Homo sapiens: one gene and its partner. The protein of the gene in region 2 interacts with the protein of the main gene of each other region in a biochemical or structural test. Each region holds a gene or a part of one and is shown on either strand. Other genes may lie near its edges.

Region 1 (5,368 bases), on a different chromosome or scaffold from region 2:
CTGGAGGGCCATCTCTCAAGCACTCTGCAGGGACTCCAGTCCCGAGAGGCAGGAAGGGTGCATGAGATGACATCTGCATTTCCTGCTGGCCCTGAGGGTCCAGGGTTCAGGGCTTTCTAACCTGGTCCTGTGATGAGCTCCCACCACCTTCCTGTGGATCAGAAGAGAGGGAGTGTTGGGATGAAAAGCCTTCTTTCCCAGGGCCTGCTAGCCTTCAGGAAACAGAAAACGTTTCTTTCAACAGGGAATTTAATTTAGAAATCTGGATGGCAATGACTTTAATATTTGGAAGGCCATCAGCCATGCTTGGGTTAAGTCCAAGGCAGGTGAATCTGAGGACGCTGGCCTCCCACTGGGGCTCTCTGCGGCTAGGCAGAGGACATGGCGGCCTCATCTCTGCAAGCTCAGGGGTCCCAAGGCTCAGAGGAAGGAACCCAGAAGAGATGGGGGAGGTGAGTCCAGTGGGTCTAGTGGGCGCTCAAAGATAGACCAAAGCAAAGCGCCAACACACTGTTAAGCTCTTGTACTTTATTGAGCAGCTGTGGAATTAGGAAGGGGAAGTAGGATAGGGGACACGATTACGTTCCTAAGTGAAGGTTTCAAGCTGGGCTTTGCAGGGGGTATAATTAGTATGGTCACTGTGTCTTGTAGGATGTTTGGCTCCTTGGTGATAGAGCTTGCCAAAATGGTGTCCTTTGATAAGGAGGGCTGGGGGGCAGGGAGTTGAAGAAATTCCCTTGCCAGGCTTGGGGATCTGTAAACATTTCCATTAATCAACAAGTGTGTACTAATCCCGAGTCTTACATTGCGATGCCTCACTATCCCCACAGCCCCATCCCTACCTCTCTGCCCACCAGGGCTGAGCTCAAATCTGTGTGTTGTGGACCTCTGCATAGGCCCCAAGGGAGGGAGACTGAGGCTCAGCCTGGGACTCAGCAGGGCAGGTGATCAGGCTCCCGGCCAGCTGGAGCCAGAGGGGGACGGGGCATCCTTGGCCCCCGTGCTGTGTGCAGAACAGAGGGCTACGTTGCAGCGAGTGCATCCTTGATGGCATTGGTGAGAGGGAAGCGCAGATCCTGGCCACAGAAGGAGCCCTGGAAGTCATCCAGGTCCAGGGCCCATACCATGGCGCCCGCCAGCTGCCTGTCCTTCAGGTACTGCACCTGGCAGGGGAGGCCCAGAGGAGCAGGGCTGGGTTCCCTGACCCAGAGTGTGTACAGGGCACATGTGCTCTGTGAGCCCAGCCCAGACCTCAGTGCAAGGGACAGGAATCTGGCTGCTGGGAGCGGGGCCTCCTTCTTTCTCTTTGTCCTGAGGTGTGGCCTTGGGGAAACCTACCTTGCTTTTGACGCTTTCCTGGTCGTCGTATCCTACCCACTGGTTGCCCTTGGTGGCATAGGGGACCTGCTGGCCGAGGATTCTATGGACTGTGGCTCCGCGGAGGAAGTCACAGATCTGAGCAGATAACAGGGAAAAGGCAGTGTGGGGAGTCGTGCCGAGACCTTGCAGGTCACCAGGAGACGCCACTCTCCAAATCTCTTTTAGCTCCTGCTCCATCCTGCAGCCTCACTCTCTGCAGGGTCTGCAGGCTGCATGCATCACACAAGTTTATACAAACCAGAGGCAAATGACCCAGAGATGGTGGCTGCCTTGGCCCTGCTTAGCTTCTTCCATTTAAACAGAGATGTGAGGCCTGCTGGTTGACACTGAGGACAGGCCCAAGGCCACACAGAGTAGCAGAGGCTAGAGTGAAACAAAAAATCTGCCTCTTGACCTCTGCTCTTTCCTGGGCTGGAAGGAAGACCTCAGCCCCATAGCCAGAGGGCTATCCCAGGTGCCTAGTGGTGCAGGCCCATGTGCCTGTACCTGCTGGAGATTTTCAGCAACAAATGTCCTAACCTCTCCCTTCCACTTCCTCAGGCATGCTGGGGCAACCGGACATTTTCTTTATTCCCAAAGGAGAAAAAGCAAGAACGTGGTGGGGAATCACCTTCCCCAGGGCTGCTGGTGGTGTGGGGGAATCCTACCTTCTCCCCAACTCCATTACCTCATAGTAGGCAAGGGTCCCTGCCTCCTTGGTGAACCGGCCTGGAATTCCCGGTCCTGAGATTGGGGCTCCAACACCAGTCTCAGAAGAAGCCAGAGTGAAGCTCCTCCCGAAGGTGGGGATGCCCATCACCAGCTTACTGGCAGGAGCCCCCAGCCTCAACATGTACCCCACAGCATAGTCCTGGGTGGGGTAGGGTGGGAACAACGTGAGCAGTTAGTGCACAGGTGCGGAAGGTTGAGCAATTAATACTGCTGCCTTAGCAGGGGTTATTGGTGTATGGTGCACTGGGGATTCCCCTGTCCCTCCGGGAACGGATCATGTCACTTTAAAGTGAATTTTACAGTTTCATTCTTGAAAAAAATCCTTTGAGGCATAGGAAGGGGCTATTACTATTTGACAGATGCAGAAATCAGGTGGTTGGCTCTGAGGGCACAATGACTCCTACCTCCTCGGCTCCCAGCCTCTCCCCATTCGGCCCCCTGCCCTCACTCCATTTACCCTGCAGATCACCTTCCCAGAGCAACGCAGCATGCCCAGACTTTGGGCCTCAGTTTCCTTATCTGTGGAATGGGCCTCATGACCCCCCTCTTGCAGGACTGTACTGAGGGCTAGAGAGATTGGTGTGTGAGCACTGGCAGATGGCAGGTCTTGCGGCCCCCTCCTGGCCCTCCCTCCTTCTGGGAACTCACAGTGTTGCTGAATCTGTCAGGACTTGCATCCTCCTGACCTCGGAACAGGGGACTGTGATGGCCTGTGGTCCCACGCCAGGCTCCATGAAAATCGTAGGTCATGATGCTAATGAAATCCAGGTGTCTGAGGAGGAAGGGGATGGAGGGTGAGGCAGGAAATTATTAATAGAAAAGCTTTAGGCCGGGCGTGGTGGCTCATACCTGGAATCCCAGCACTTTGGGAGGCCGAGGCAGGTGGATCATGAGGTGAGGAGTTCAAGACCAGCCTGGCCAAGATGGTGAAACCCCGTCTCTACTCTAACTACGAAAATTAGCCAGGCATGGTGGCAGGCACCTGTAATCCCAGCTACTCGGGAGGCTGAGGCAGGAGAATCGCTTGAACCCAGGCGGCAGAGGTTGTGCCACTGCACTCCGGCCTGGGCAACAGAGTGAGATTTTGTCTCAAAAAAAAGTAAGAAAGAAAAGCTTTTGGGCTCCTATTTAAGGCTCCAGCAGGATGTGAACGAGGGAAGCAGACAGCAGCCAGACAGGCCACTAGCCCGAACCCCAGCAGTCCCCAGTGACCTCGGTCCCCATTGCTGGCACACCTCCCTGTGCCACTCCAGGGCACGGGCTCAGGGTCCCACAAGGGCACTTCAGTCAAGAATGGGTCTTCTGTTATGCCCAGCACACATTTGGGAGCTGGCCTACAGCCCACCTTACCCCCACCACTTCTGCCAGGCTTATCTTAGTGAAAGCAGATTAAAAGTAGCATCAACAGACAGCCTGGCGGGGAAAGAGCAGGACCAAAGGATGACCTGAACCTAAGATGACTGGGGTGGGAGGAGGTTTTGCACACCCGCACCGGTGAGCCCACTGGGGGTGGATTGCATGAATACGGGTATGTGGGGCAAATGGTTGACATCCACCTGTTTCCCACCCTCTAAAGAATCCATTTAATTAAGCACTGAGTTTACACCTCCCTGGGATCCTAAAGAAAGCTCTGAAGTCATTTTGAAGAGTCTTTGTTCCTTACTCCTGGGTTTCCCGAGACCCATGGCTCTGCTCTCAGGAGAGATGAGGCTGCTTGGCTGTTCCTTGTTCCTCACAGGCATGAGGGGTGGGGTGAGGATGAGGCGTGGGGCCAACAGGAAAGGGGGAGGCCTGTGTGTATGAGAGAGCCTTGAGGACTCCCCAGCACTCTAGAAAGAGGCTGCTGTGTGGCCTCTCCAGGGCCCAGCACTCTGCTCTGCCTGGTGTGGAGAAAATACTCTGCAATAGCTGGAGGGTTTGAATAGCTTTTTCCACTTCCCTTTCCAAAATACTTTCATAGCAGCTCTCTCAACTGCTCAGCCAACAGCCCAGGTGAAAAAGGAAAGGCAAGGATTGTTATGCCTCATTTGACAGATGGGGAAACTGAGGCACAGGGCAGGGAAGTGACTTGCTCAAGGTCACACATCAAGGCTTTGGAAGAACTGGGACTGGAAGCCCAGTGTCCTCAGTCTACATGGAGTGCTAGGGCTGGGGGTGGCGGGGAAACAGGAGTGTTGGCAGAGGTTCTGGGGAGGCTGCCTGGGGCAGGAGACTCACTGGGATATCTTGGCAATGTCATAGCTGCTGTCAATGGTGACCTTCCCCGCAGACAGTGCTGCGCTGAGCAGGAGCTGCTTTTTCCCTGGCTGGGCTTCCTTTATAAATTCGGCCTTCATTTCCTAGATGGGAGACAGGCAGGTGAGAGAAAGGGTCCCAAGTGGCATGAGAGGTAGACTCATCGAGGGCGGACTAGGTCTCTGCGCAACCCATTTGCTGTACTCCCCAACCTGCCTGGGGCCTAGTGGAAGTGATAAAGTGGCTCATCAGTGGTCCCATCCTCAAGTCACCCATCCTTTTCCTAAAAAACTGACTAATCTTCTCCCCAAACCCATGCACACCCATCAGCACTCAATTACTCCCTGTCCTGGAGGGAGCATCGGACAGTGGGTGACCCCTATTGGCCCACAGATGACTTTGGGAGACATTTGCCTTTCGGTCTGTGCTTTGTTCTAGCTGGTGCATGAAATCCCAAAGTTAAAGTGATTGCTGCTGGTATTGTGAACAATTTGTTTAGACTCTCCTTCTGCCCCTGGTAACTGGAGATACTTAGGCTGCCCCCAGGCAGAGCTGAGAGCTGCTGGACACAGTGCATGCTGGGTATGGGTGGCATCAGTATGGGATTGAAGGGTGGGCAATGGGCAATGCACTAAGTGGGTAGTTATAAGTGGGTGCTCTGCTCAGTCACAACCTTCCACCTCTTAGAACCCCATTCCCACCTCCCACCATGGTCACAAGAAGCCTTCCTTGCTATGTGAGATCTTCAGGGCACAGGGTCCCAGGACACTGCCCTGAGGCTGAAGTCCCTCTTTACCTGTCCTCAGGAGGACAGCAGCTGACGCCGGCTTCTAGCCCACCCCATTCCCTCATGCCTGCCCACCTCCCTCCCTGTCCCTGACCTGACCAGCACCTTGATTAGGGTGGTAAAATGCTGTTTGTCTCTCCGTCCAGGGTAGAGCCAGGCAAGGTCCAGCCCATCAAAGCCATGGGTGCGCAGAAATGGCGGTACTGACTTGATGAAAGTCCGGCGACTCTGGGTGTTGGAGGCTATCTTGGAAAA
Region 2 (7,382 bases):
TGAGACAAAGTCAAGCTTAGAAACCTCCATGGTATAGTGAGCTATATTAATAAGACTAATAAATCATTAATACCCTGGAGAGTTCCCAATATCTAAGACAATCCTAGAGACTATTTGATACAATGCCACAGATACATTTCCAGCAGAGCTCACCTCTGTATGTCATATCATTTTATGAGATCATTTGAATCTTAACATCTAATTCCAAATAAAAACAAAAACTTTTGGAAGGGAAAAAAAACTTTATGGCAGAAACTTGAGCTATATCTGCTTGGAATCAAATAGATAATTTTCATATACCATAGGCACATTACTTGGCAAATCATGCCACATTTCAAAATATAATATGAAACCTTCAAGAAATACATAAACTAAAACCCTGGAAGTAACCAGAAAAATACAGACAAATCATGAGCTTCTGGAGGACAAAAATCATTTATTATTTATTCATATATTCCTGATACCTAGTAGAGTGCCCAGCACAAAGTTGATCAATAAATGCTCAATTTGAATTGTCTCTTGAAACTACCTAGCTGAATTAGAGAGGTAACAGAATGTCATCTACAACAGAAATCTTTGAATATACATGCTTGTTGAGTATATAAGTAGTTAATAATTCAAAACATTTTCATTGAGCTCTTACTACAATATATACAACGAACCATAATCCTGCGACCCTCTGTGGGAAGGGTACAAAGATAAATAAGCCTTGTCTCCTACAGTAGAAAAGGTCACAGGTCAGTAGCATGTATAAGGCCCACATCCAAGAATATAAGCAATTGTAAAATACAGTGAAATGCTCTTCTAGTGAAGTGCTGCTCTTCAAGTTCATATTGCACGAGACCGAGTTTTTTGTTTTTGTTTTTGTTTTTTTTCTTGTTCTTCCAATGGCAATCTTAACACTGGATGGGGTGAAAACAGATATAGCAGGATGCATAGGAGACAGAAGCGGGTGTGGAAGCTTTTTATATCCTAATTAGAACTATTGAGATATGGGAATTGGAGCGGACACTAAAGTCAGGAATCACAAAGTAACACCTGATGATCACTCTGATACGGCAAATGCATGCTTTACTTACCTTCCATGTTTCACTACCAATGTTTCGGTATTTTAGTTCATATTCCACTGTGCATTCCTTAAAATGATCCAGAGACAGTGGGGGTTGCCATTGCAAATAGAGATAACCTAAGTATCCGGGATCCACTATCTCAAAATCCTGAGGAGGGTTAACTGAAATAAATCAATAAAACACTTTTATTTTTTCTGTATTTTATGACAAATATTGCTAAATCTAGATGGCTTCCAAATGTGCACCAATTGATTAACAGATAAACAAAATGTGCTACATGCATACAATCAAATATTATTCAGCCATAAAAAGACATGAAGTACTGATTCATGCTACAACATGGATGAACCTTGAGAACATTATACTAACTGAAAGAAGCCAGACACAAAAGACCACATATTGACATAGTTCCATTTCTATGAAATTTCAAAATAGACAAATTCATAGAGAGAGAAAGTAGATTCGTGGTTGGTAGGGGCTGGAGGGAGAAACAATGCAGGGTGACTGCTTAATGGGTTTAGGGGCTGTTTTACGGGTGATGCAACTATTCTGGACTTTGATAGTGGTGATTGTTGCACAACTTTGTGAATATACTAAAAACCAACGTATAGTAAAGAGTTTTACTATACATGTATAGTTTTAAAGAATATAGTTTTGTATAAAGAGTTAGTTTTGTGTAAATTATATCTCAGTAAGGCTGTTAAAAAAATCTAGATTACTGCTATATAGTTGTTCCTTCTTTGAGAAATCACATATGCAAAATGTGACTTTGCCTCACTAGGTATTAATTTTTAGAGAAGCAAAAAATTCAATGTGGCTTTATCTCTGTGCTCATGTACGCCAGAATTTGGTCTAAGATGGGAACATTTTATTACAAAAATCTGTCTAACAATAACAATAACAAATAAGAACAACAAATAATAACAAATAATAACTAACATATCACTATAATATAAATATATGTATTTAATTATATTAATTATAATATAATATATAATATAATAATATACTATAAATAATTTTAATTAATTAATAATAAAACATTAACATTATATTAAATAATATAATATAATTGAAAAATTAAATAATTCTAATTATTTTTAAATTTTACGTTAAATTTCTGTACCTTTTTAATGTATCTAATTGTCATAAAAGCTAAGGATAGTAGCTAAGGATAGTAATTAAGGAACTGTTCCAGTTAGTTTAGTACCAGGCAATGAGGTTTCAGATACTTAATCTGTTAAAAAAGACTATACAAAAAGGTATGGAGAGTGTTTTTAATTTGGCATTTATCGCACAAAATGTGTGTCAACATCAGTTACCTTATACAAGAAAGTGACTAGTAAGAACATAGCTTTTTTTCATGAACTTCCTGAAATAGTTTCAATAACAATTCATCTACTAGTTAGTTATGCACTTCCATAAGGCAGGTCAAAAAGACAGTTAATTTTCCATTAAAATCCATTTAATTTTACTTTTCCTAATTTAAAAACTATTCCATTAAAATCCATTTACCTTTTATCTCGGTGTCTGAAGATGAAGTACAGCCAAATGTTGTGCTTATCAGAAAGGTATATAAGCATCCGATAGCCAAGCAAACGAAAGCCATTTCTCCGAGATTTAAAACCTTGATATTGCCTCTCTATGAAGGAAAAATATAACATTTTAACTTTATCTTACATCAAATAATCAAACTAAACGTGATTAAAAATACTTTGGAAAGCTCTCTGTGTGCTTCTCTACCAAGAACTGGGAAAACTGTGTCCACCTCAGACCATGGAAACAGAAATAATCAAGTTAGGAACCAATATAATTGGAAAGAAAGGATTCTAGTCTCATCCTGCTTACAAGAATAAAAACAAAGCTAAGCAAAAACCCTTGTAGCTCCTCACCTCCCCGCCGACAGGCACACTTCTGACCAGGTTATGGCGACTTCAAATAGCCTTCATCCGGAAGACCGTTAGACTCACGAGAGTGTTCTTACTGGTTCACAATGGAGTTATGATATCATCCATCTCCATAGCAACCGTCTCCCCTAGCAACACATAAAACACAGTCAAATACTCTTTTCTGAGGGGAAAAAAAGAAAAAAGAAAAAGAAAAAAGTATTTGAAAGTTATTTCGGCCGGGCATGGTGGCTCATGCCTGTAATCCCAGCACTTTCGGAGGCTGAGGCGGGTGGATCACCTGAAGTCAGGAGTTTGAGACAGCCTGGCCAACATGGTGAAATCCTTTCTCTACTAAAAATGCACAATTAGCCAGGCATGGTGGCGGGCGCCTGTAATCCCAGCTATTCGGAAGGCCGAGGCAGGAGAATGGCTTGAACCCGGGAGGCGGAGATTGCAGTGAGCCAAGATCCCACCATTGCACTCCAGCCTGGGCAATAGAGCGAGACTGTCTCTAAATAAATAAATAAAATAAAATAAAATAAAATAGAAAGTTATTTGACCACTGAGAAAGCTCAGAACCTAAACCGAAGCCTCAGAGAGTTCAAAACTTTGCTCTGTTTCCTCATAAATATTTCTTTTTTTAGTTTAAAAAAAGTGTTTATTTAGCTCTTTCGCCCCCTGCTGGACGATTGACTTTCTTCTTTGCTCCTTTTTTCTTTTAATTACTTCTTTTAATTAAAATTTTTTATTTCCATCTACTCTCATTATTGTTCCACTTTTTCCTGTGTTTCCTTTATTAGTAAATGGCATCGCCATCCTTCCAGTTGCCCAAACCAGAAACCTGGGAGTCTTCCTCAACTCCTCTCCCATCTAATCTCTCCATTACCACTACCACTTCCTAAATGGAGGATCTTAGCAGGGATCTCCTTATTCAGTCTTTCCTGCCTCTGATCCATTTTCCACACCATATACAGCAAGAGTGACCTTTCTAAAGGGCAAATCTGAACTTTTCATCTCTTTCTTAAACTAAAACAGCATTTCATTGCCATAGAATACAATTTAGTCATCTTTCTGTTCTTGGATATTGGTTCTTGACGGATATGATCAAAATTTAAAGGATTCATGCCTTCAAATAGCTACTCAATTAAAAATACTTTGCTTTTCAGGAAAAACTACTACTCCCAATTCCATACACTTCTCTTCGAATCTATATTCTGGAACCAACAATTTCACATAAAGTAAAGGATTAAAAGTCACTCAAAAGAAAAGAAGGGACTGCCCTTCTTTTCTTGTGCATAGATTAATTCAATAGGACAGACCCTCTCTTCCACCCCACCCTCTTCCCCCTACCTGATCCATCTGTAATATTGTAACTTTGGTAAGCCTCAATGGCTACTTTATAGAATCTTAGGATCAAATTTTTAGAACCAGTATGTATATTACAGACAAGGCTAGTCAAATTCTCTTTTATAAATTGGGCAGTAAAACTCAGACTTGCCCCACCCAAGATTACACAGCAAATTAGTAACAAAGCTGGAAGTAGAACAGAGATCTCATGATGCCCAGTCCTGTGCACTTCCACCCCATTCTGCTGGGTCCCACAGGCATGACTCAGGATTATGAACGCTTTTCCTCTGGAACCCCAGTGTTTAAATCTTCCTTTAATTAGCAAACCAAGCTGAATCAACACCATGTTATTTTAAAAATTCTGCGCCTCATAAAATCAGGAGAGAATGTCATTTCTCTCACTGAGGCCCAACAAATCTCTCTTTCTCCCCAATTCCTCTCTCTTTACTTGCCAGCCAATGGCTGCCCACTAATGCATCTGTAAGTACTAGGTAGATTTGGCTAACAGAAGGTTATGGATCTTCCACAGAGCTACCCTCAGAGATTAAGATGAACACACTGGTTACTACTGGGATCAGGGCAATAGGTCTGACAAAGAGAAAACCTTCCATATTACCTTTAAGGACTAAGGGCAATCAGGCTGCCCTTACAATGCTCTCAGAGAGATTCTAACAAAATTCTCTCTCCCCTATCGATCTGTCCTTTAAGATTTCGTAGCATTATGTCATGTACAGCATAAATGCTAAGTAAAGAGTTTAAAATCATTTGCTTCTATTCCATTTATAGGCTATGAAATCTGACTCAGGCTATCAAATAGCATTTCATGGATCAGACTGATCAATATACCCAAGCAAAGGTGGAAAATGGGATAACTAGCTTCTAGCATCACTTATGGATAAACCCACAAAAGGAGTTGCTGAATTACACCTAGGGCCCAACCAAGACTTTCTTACCCAAATGAACACAAAGACAATTCTCTCCTTTGCTTCTGGGTTACAGGATTGTCACTAGTGCAATGAGGGGCTTTATACACTATGTGGTTACCAGGAACACCGGAGTTTTTCACAAGGACCAGGGGGACCTGAAGACAAAGGGAAGATTAGAAAAGCAAATGCAGACATATTAGATTTGAAAAAGTTGTTTTTCTATATTTCAGACCCCCAGACCACAGTTCATAACCACTCATCTGGTCTTAGCTCCTCATTTTTAAAAATAAGGAAATAACAGCCAGAGAGGAAGGTAAGTAAGCCAAGTGTACACAACTTATTGGTGGCAGAGCTGGGATTGAAAACCATATCTCCTGAACCCTTTCCACTAACTAGCAAATAAATGTTCTTATCATAATGAATCTATCCTGCACCTATTTTACTAGAAGCCTCTTCCTAACTCCCAACCTTCCTCTACCTACTGTCACCACCCAAACCATCCAGCCCACCACACAGTTTTATCATTATGACATTTCTGACAGAGTAATAATTCAATAAATATTTATTGAGCATCTTTGGAAGTTTTTTGCCAGATACTATCCCAGCTAAATCTTGCAGAAGACACAAAGTGAAAGTGGCAACAGTCATAGTATCTGTCATAGTAATAGTACCTTCTAGTATTTATTCAACATCTCAGGCACTGCCCTGTGCTATGCAATTTATATGCATTATCTCATATAATCCTCACAATCAGACTTGGACATATATACTATTTTTAGTTCTATGTTATTTGTTTAAATTTTCTTTTTAACTTTAATTTTTAATTGATACATAATGATTGTACATATTTGTGGGGTACAGTGTAATGTTTTGATACATGGATAACGTTGTGTAATGATCAAATCACGGTAATTAGCATATACATCACCTCAAACATTTATCAGTTCTTTGTGGTAAAAACATTCAAATTCCTTTCTTCTAGCTTTTGAAAAATACAATTCATTATTGTTAGCTATACTCACCTTACTGTGCAATAGAAATCAGAATGTATTCCTCTTATCTAACTGTAACATTGTACCCATTCACCAACCTTTCCCCATCCCGGCTCCCTTATTCCCTCCCCAGCCTCTGGTAACTTCTATTCTACTCTCTACTCTATGAGATTAACTTTTTAAAGACCAGAAACTATGACATACAGAAGTCAAATGGCTTCCCTCAAGTCACACACCATAAATGGTGAAACTTGGATTTAAATCTAGACAATCTAGTACCAGAGCCCTTGATGGTAATCACTACACTAGGTATTTTCCATGCCTAAGATCAATGTGGAGGGGAGCTTTCTATTTCTACCCACTCAGTTTTACACAACACTTTTGAGATAGTTTCTCACTGAGAATCTCCTTTGGAATGGCAAACCTAAAGTGATTGCCTCTTCTCGGCCTCGCTTCTCCACCGCTTCAAAGTCATGCAACATAATACTCTCACTTTAACAGCTGGCTGCAATCTTTGCATTATTGGAGAAATTCCAGGTACTTACCAATCATATGGTTTCTCAAGAAATAGATTAACGTAAGCAGTTATCACAGGTCCTCTTTTGTTCTCCTCTCTACTTTAGAGACATTAATTAGAATCTCTAATACTTTCCTGCCTAATAATCAAGCACGTAGAAAATATTAGTTAGGTATTCCTGAAACAGTCACAGGGCCAGGACACAGATTCTACAAGCCACAAGATGGGGAAGTTATGGGTGAGGCCAAAAGCCATCTAAAGCAAATTTGGAATTATACCAAGGTGCTGTAAAAGCTGGCAGGACCAACTATTCTTTGGATAAAGTAACAGATACATAGCCGAGGAGCTTTTTATAATAAAAGACACAACGGTGTAAGTATCAATCTGGATTTCACTCCTGCCTCAACCACTGTGATAAGAGGTAAATTATATCTCAATTTGTATCTATAAAATGGAGGTAATGATACAAGCCTGGCAGGGGTGTCTTGAAGATTAAATAAGATAATGTATGTGAAAGTGCTAGAAGAATAGTAAATTGCTCTATATACTTGAGAGGGGTTTGCTTCTGAGGACACTGCCACTAAGCAACACTTGAAAATAACTTACCACATCCTACACATTTGCCTTTATTAATTCAGCAA

The links.
Region 1: the proteins of IL13RA2 (region 2) and CHI3L1 interact in a biophysical measurement, tested with the Homo sapiens proteins (one study listed by IntAct).

The regions. Positions count from the first base shown.
Region 1 is NC_000001.11:203,178,423-203,183,790, forward strand, and holds the end of CHI3L1 (chitinase-3-like protein 1 precursor), read right to left. Parts: coding exon 5,219-5,368; intron 4,431-5,218; coding exon 4,309-4,430; intron 3,883-4,308; coding exon of another isoform or gene 3,675-3,882; exon of another isoform or gene 2,864-3,674; coding exon 2,740-2,863; intron 2,231-2,739; coding exon 2,048-2,230; intron 1,456-2,047; coding exon 1,339-1,455; coding exon of another isoform or gene 1,164-1,338; coding exon 1,023-1,163; 3' UTR 509-1,022; downstream 1-508. UniProt on the Homo sapiens protein: Carbohydrate-binding lectin with a preference for chitin. Has no chitinase activity. May play a role in tissue remodeling and in the capacity of cells to respond to and cope with changes in their environment.
Region 2 is NC_000023.11:115,014,591-115,021,972, forward strand, and holds the start of IL13RA2 (interleukin-13 receptor subunit alpha-2 precursor), read right to left. Parts: upstream 3,027-7,382; 5' UTR 2,963-3,026; intron 2,713-2,962; 5' UTR 2,680-2,712; coding exon 2,586-2,679; intron 1,232-2,585; coding exon 1,080-1,231; intron 1-1,079. UniProt on the Homo sapiens protein: Cell surface receptor that plays a role in the regulation of IL-13-mediated responses. Functions as a decoy receptor that inhibits IL-13- and IL-4-mediated signal transduction via the JAK-STAT pathway and thereby modulates immune responses and inflammation.